Linked DNA regions of Homo sapiens: region 1 is linked to region 2. A link means that fine-mapping ties the variant in region 2 to the expression of a gene that starts in the linked region. Tissue or cell type: thyroid. Region 2 holds a variant in brackets; the other region holds the start of a gene. All regions are shown on one strand. Distances are between the middles of the regions.

What was found.
Region 1: XYLT1 starts here. The variant in region 2 is fine-mapped to the expression of XYLT1 in thyroid (GTEx, PIP above 0.99).

What each region holds. Positions count from the first base shown.
Region 1 is chr16:17,469,483-17,472,371 of GRCh38, reverse strand. It overlaps XYLT1 (xylosyltransferase 1), which reads left to right and starts at 1,412. Exons shown (of 12, transcript NM_022166.4): 1 at 1,412-1,938. The coding sequence starts at 1,576. It overlaps LOC107987234 (a long non-coding RNA gene), which reads left to right and starts at 1,945. Exons shown (of 2, transcript XR_001752091.2): 1 at 1,945-2,889. It overlaps LOC105371106 (a long non-coding RNA gene), which reads left to right. Exons shown (of 3, transcript XR_933144.3): 3 at 268-1,365. RefSeq lists enhancers at 917-1,418, 2,193-2,242, 2,363-2,632.
Region 2 is chr16:17,551,974-17,554,863 of GRCh38, reverse strand. No RefSeq gene overlaps it. Among named protein-coding and RNA genes, the nearest start is that of XYLT1, 82 kb to the right of the region's middle. The variant T/C (reference allele first, on the strand shown) is at 1,503.

The DNA of each region.
Region 1 (2,889 bases), 82 kb after region 2:
GCGATTACAGGCATGAGCCACCGCGCCCAGGCCTATCTCACTATATTTTAATGATTAACATCCACATCAGGCTTCTCTAGACCTCAGGCTTGCTGAAGATGAGATTAAACCTCATTCACCTTTGGATGCGTGCACCTGGCCCAGTGTCTGACACAAGCTTTGTATTCACGGATGCTTGTGGAGTGGATGAAACAATCTCTTCCCACTCCCTGCCTCATTGTCTGATGAGCCTTCATTACACTCCACTTTCTTCTCTTTGTAAATTAGGATGAGGTGAAAAAGCACAGCAGACAAGATGCGAAGCATTCACGCCAAGTCCTCAATTCACAAACTGATTTGATCTGCTGTTGTATTCCCAGAGTGCTAGGTCCCGTATGGGACACCAACGCCATCCCATATGCTCACTGTTCTGCGCTGCTGTGTATAAAGCCCTGGGCAAGAGGACAAGGGAGGGAAAAACCAGAAAGACTGAGTCAGAGAAGGCTCGGGATGAAATTTGAGTCCATTGGGATCATTCTGCCTAAACGACAGAGGAGAAAGCTTGGGCTCAGGGAGGAGTCCTCCTCCTCCTGGCTCAAGGTCACCGGGACAGACCAGTCAGGATGGGAAAGAACTCCACTTTCAAGAGCAAGACCTGTTTCCCCAGGACCTGGGCCCTGTGCAGACAGGAAGGGGGACTTCAGGATGGATGGGGAAAAGGACACGCTGGGAGGCTGCGGGGCCAGCCTTTGGGGCTTGCATCCTGCGAAGGTTGAGTAACTCCACGGGTCTCCCTTTTGCCGCTATACCACTTGCCAACTGGGTTTGGAGTCTCTTGGCTTGTGAGTCCTCAGGGACCAGAGAAGTGACTCAGTGAACACTTAGTACATCGTTGGCACCGGGGATTGTGTGTGATTCAGGAGTCACTCACAGAGCTTGTGCTGATTAACTCCAGAAACTCACCCAAAGCCTCCTCCCCACCCCTTCAAGCCCAGGATGAAGGGATCAGACTGTGGCTCTGACACTCCTGAAATGTTTCTCACGTGTCCACCTGCCAACCGGTCTGGTACCGACAGAAGATCCCTGGACCGCGAACTCCGGGGCTAGGAGCTTCCTCCACGCACTGCCTCCTTCCAGCGGCCCACAGGGAAAACAGGACCTCGGGACCCCCTCTCTTCCTGACCTCCCCTGGATTCTGAGCGGGCCCACCCTCAACCAAAGGTCCCCTGTTTCGCGGCCCCTGCCTCTCTTTTTCCGCCTTGGGAATTGTCCCCCTCGCCCCCCATCCTACTCCCACTACGTCCTGAGGGGTGTCTGTCTTCTCTGATCGCCCCCACCCCCTTCCTTTCCCTCCTCCTTTTCCTCCCTCGGCTCCTCCCCCAGGCCCCGCCCTCTCCGCCTCGGCCCGCGTCCCCCCGGCGCCTTCCCCATCACCCTCCCCTCCAGCGGGGACAGGGGTGTGGGGAGGGGGGCGGCGGCGGCGGCCCGAGCGGGAGCCCGAGCGGCAGCCGGCGGCCGCGGGAGCTGCGGGGAGCGCGGGGGCGGCCCGGAGCGTGCCGGGGTCCCCGCGCCTCGCTCGCCGGCCGCGCTCCGAAGATGGTGGCGGCGCCGTGCGCCCGGAGGCTGGCCCGGCGCTCGCACTCGGCGCTGCTCGCGGCGCTCACGGTGCTGCTGCTGCAGACGCTGGTCGTGTGGAATTTCAGCAGCCTCGACTCCGGGGCCGGGGAGCGCCGCGGGGGCGCAGCGGTCGGCGGCGGGGAGCAGCCGCCCCCGGCCCCGGCCCCGCGCCGGGAGCGCCGGGACCTGCCCGCCGAGCCGGCTGCAGCCCGAGGAGGAGGAGGAGGCGGCGGCGGAGGAGGAGGAGGACGGGGGCCCCAGGCGCGGGCGCGGGGAGGCGGCCCCGGAGAACCGCGGGGACAGCAGCCGGCCAGCCGGGGGGCACTGCCCGCCCGGGCTCTGGTAAGATGCCCTTTCGGCTCGCGCCCCGCGGCGAGGGAGGGAGGAAGGCAGCCCGACCCCACGCCCCCCTAGCCCTTGAACTCGGTCATCAGACTGGGACTCTGCAAGCCTACCGACTCCACATCGCCTCTTGCCCCGGGAAGCCGGGTGGGGTCCCTGCCAAGGCTCAGGGGTCGTGGGCTGCCCCTTTCAGAGTCTGAGCACGGACCCCTTGGGGTCTGGGGGAAGTTTTCTCCAGCGGGGGCGCTTTGGGGGTTACCGGAGCCTGGCTGGGTTCCTGTTCCCCATCACTCTTGCTGGGGACCCCAGGTGACTTGCTCCGTGCGTGTAGGTCTTGGTGACTCGCTCCCTGCCTGAGTGAGTGGATCTCCCCGGATCCTCAGCCGCTGTTCCTGGGCGGTTGTCGCAGCAGCATCTCTCTGGTTTTTGCCGAGCTGGGTGCAGACAGTTGAGCCCTCTGTTCGTCCTGGCCTGCGATGAGGGCTGAGCTGGGCGTCCCAAGTCCCCGACCATGCCCCTGAATCAATACTCAGTCCGGGGTGTCTGGTCTTACTTTGGGTCTTCTGTTTCTCTTCTCTGGATGTTTGAGCCTTCCGTCTTCACCTTCTCTGTCTCTAACCTTGCCGTCTCCCATGCCCTCTGTGACTTTATCTCCTCCCCATCTCCAGTTTCAGGGCATGGCTCCTTCTCCTAGCTGGTTGTCTCTGTCTTTCTGTCTTGTTGCGGCCGGTTCAGGTCACCAGCTGTGTGTCCGACCACACCGTCAGGGCTTCCACTCCTATGGGATTACTTTGCCCTTCGTGGGTGTGAACAGTCAGGGCTCTGAAACTGTTTTTTCCGCAGATCTGGGGCCATCTGGGTGGCTGGGTGGGGAACTGACTTGTCTTCCTACCCTGTCCCTAACTTCTCCAGGGATACCTTTCCCACCTTCTCTGGGCTGCCTTGCCCAGC
Region 2 (2,890 bases):
TGCATCTATGGTCACAGCTACATTACAGGGCAAGTACTTCTATGATTCCCATGTTATCGATGTGGCCACTGAGGCCCAAAGAGGTCACATGACTTGCCCCAGGTCACACAGCTGATGAATGGTGGAGCTAGAGTTAGAAGCAGGCACCCTGGCTGCTAGAGTCCATAGCCTCTATCATGCTGCTCCATGCAGATCATAATTCAGTGTAGTGGGAACATGAAGGAAAGGGAGTTGCGGGTGGATGGAGGAATTTGGGGCCAGAGAAGTAGGTGAGGGACCGGCAGACAGGGCCATGCCAGCCACCTAAGTGGCTTAGGCATATCTTAATGGCAGTGGGAAGTCATTGAAGGACTTAGCTGAGAAAGGGACGGAATTTAGATATTTGGAAAATAGCAGAGGTCAAGGAAGAGCTCAGATTATGAGTGAATCCAGGTCGAGAAGCCTTTAAAATTCATTATCCTCAAGGAAACATGGGTTGGTTCCCTTTGTATTCCAGGGAAAGGTGTGAGATTCTAGGTTTCTTAAAAAATCTCCCTGGACATCCCTCCAGCCTCTCTCCCAGCAAGAGTCAGCAGGTCACCCATCAGCTGGGGACAAAATTAGAACAAAGTAGGAAAAAGTGGGCATCATCGCTGCATTTCAGAGGGAGTCTTCTCTGTGGCCAGCCCCTGAGTATTATTTAGCCAGCTCGGTATAGTTAGCTTTAAAATAACAGAATTGTTTAGTAGCAGAAAAATACAGTTATTAGCTCTGATTATAGGGGAATCCGATTGAGCCACGAATGTGATCTGCCTGTTTTATTCCTAACTGGTAATTTCAAACGGCCTCCTTTCCTCAAATTTTAGGAAAGGAGGAACCCAAACCTTGCGAGCTGCTCCGCATTGTTTATCTGTTATTTTTAAACAAATCAAACGGAAATTGATCTGCCTTGTTGGGAACGCAGTTGCTGCCAAATGGCCTGGCTCTCCTACAGGTTTTTGTGGGAACACCATCAGTTAGCCGTGATCGCTTCAATTGTGAATAATCAGGGAACTAATTACGGGCCTCCTGGAGTTGTCCTCACCAGCAGGTAACATAATTCACTGCTAAGTGGGGTGAAAATGAGCCTTCCATGCTTTGGAGCAGGAAGTCATTTACCTTGCTGGACATTTTGACACTTCTCTGTTTCATGCATCCCAGAAGGAAGGAAGCTGGGGTCTGGTGAGCTTCAACTTTGCAGACAGCCCAGCCCATCTACCCATCCCTTCTCCTTCTTGGCAAATACTTATCAAGGACCTAAGTTGTCACACACTTCCAGACGGAGCCTACAGCCTAGCAGGTATCCTAGATAGTAAGTAACTTTAAAAGATCATTTTTGTTGTTTTGTTCTGTTTTTGACAGAGTCTACGTCTGTCACCCAGACTGGAGTGCAGTGGGGCCATCTGGCTCACTGCAACCTCCGCCTCCCAGGTTCGAGTGATTCTCCTGCTTCAGTAGCTCCTGAGTAGCTAGGACTGCAGGCG[T/C]GTGCCACCACGCCTGGGTAATTTTTTGTATTTTTAGTGGAGACAGGGTTTCGCTTTGTTAGCCAGGATGGTCTCAATCTCCTGACCTCAAGTGATCCGCCCGCCTTGGCCTCCCAAAGTGCTGGGATTACAGGTGTGAGCCAGTGTACCCAGCCAGCATCCATTCCTTTTTTTTTTTGAGAAGGAGTTTTGTTCTGTCAACCAGGCTGGAGTGTACCGGCATGATCTTGGCTCACTGCAACCTCCTCCCACTGAGTTCAAGCTATTCTCCTGCCTCAGCCTCCCGAGTAGCTGGGATTACAGGTGCCCGCCACCACGCCCATCTAATTCTTGTATTTTTAGTGGAGACGGGGTTTCCCCATGTTGGTCAGGCTGGTCTCAAACCCCTAACCTCAGGTGACCCACCTTCCTCAGCCTCCCAAAGTGCTGGGATTACAGACGTGAGCCACCATGCCCGTCCCAACATCTGCTTTTAAATAGAGATAAATTGCCATTGTTGAACCAAACCAGGTCATGCGGCAAAAAGAGTCAAGATTCAAGGAGTTAAAAGTCTGTCTTAGCCCAGCACAAGTTAGCTTTGTGGTTACAAACATGGCCTGGGGAGGGAGGCAGTGTGGGTTCAAGACCCAGTTCCAGTACTGTCTAACTGTCTGAGCATGGGTCAGGTAGCGTGTTTCCTAAGGGTTAGTTTATTTTTCTCTAGAAGGGAAAAGAACACAGCACTTTCTTATGTTTTGGGGAAGATTGAATAAGACTGTCTATCCACACATGGCTGAATTCCTGATTTGTGGTGGTGGCGGTTATAAGCTGAGCAGGTTTGGGCAAGTCAGGATGTTCCAAAGCCTCAGGTATGAATGGTCCTGACCTTCCAGCTGGACTGCTTAGATAATCAAATGGGCCAGTGTGCATGAAAACCTCTTTACAGCCGCAACAGGCAACACAAAGTACTGTTGCTCCATGTGTGTGTGAAGACGTGGTGCGGAAGGTCTCCTGCTCACAAAGGGGAGGTTTTATGGTTTAAAACAGACTTGCTTTCTAGGCTGCTGCCACATCTTTTGGGATAATGAGTGATATCCTGGGAAACTGGAGTTGGATGCTTTTTGCCTACATTCATAAGGCAGGTTGAATAAAATAATTGTTATGGCCGGGTGTGGTGGCTCATGCCTATAATCCCAGCGCTTTGGGAGGCCAAGGCGGGCAGATTACAAGGCCAGGAGATCAAGACCATCCTGGCCAACATAGTGAAACCCCGTCTCTACTAAACATACAAAAATTAGCTGGGCCTAATGACGTGTGCCTATAATCCCAGCTGCTCGGGAGGCTGAGGCAGGAGAATCGCTTGAACCCAGGAGGTGAAGTTGCAGTGAGCTGAGATTGTGCCACTGCAC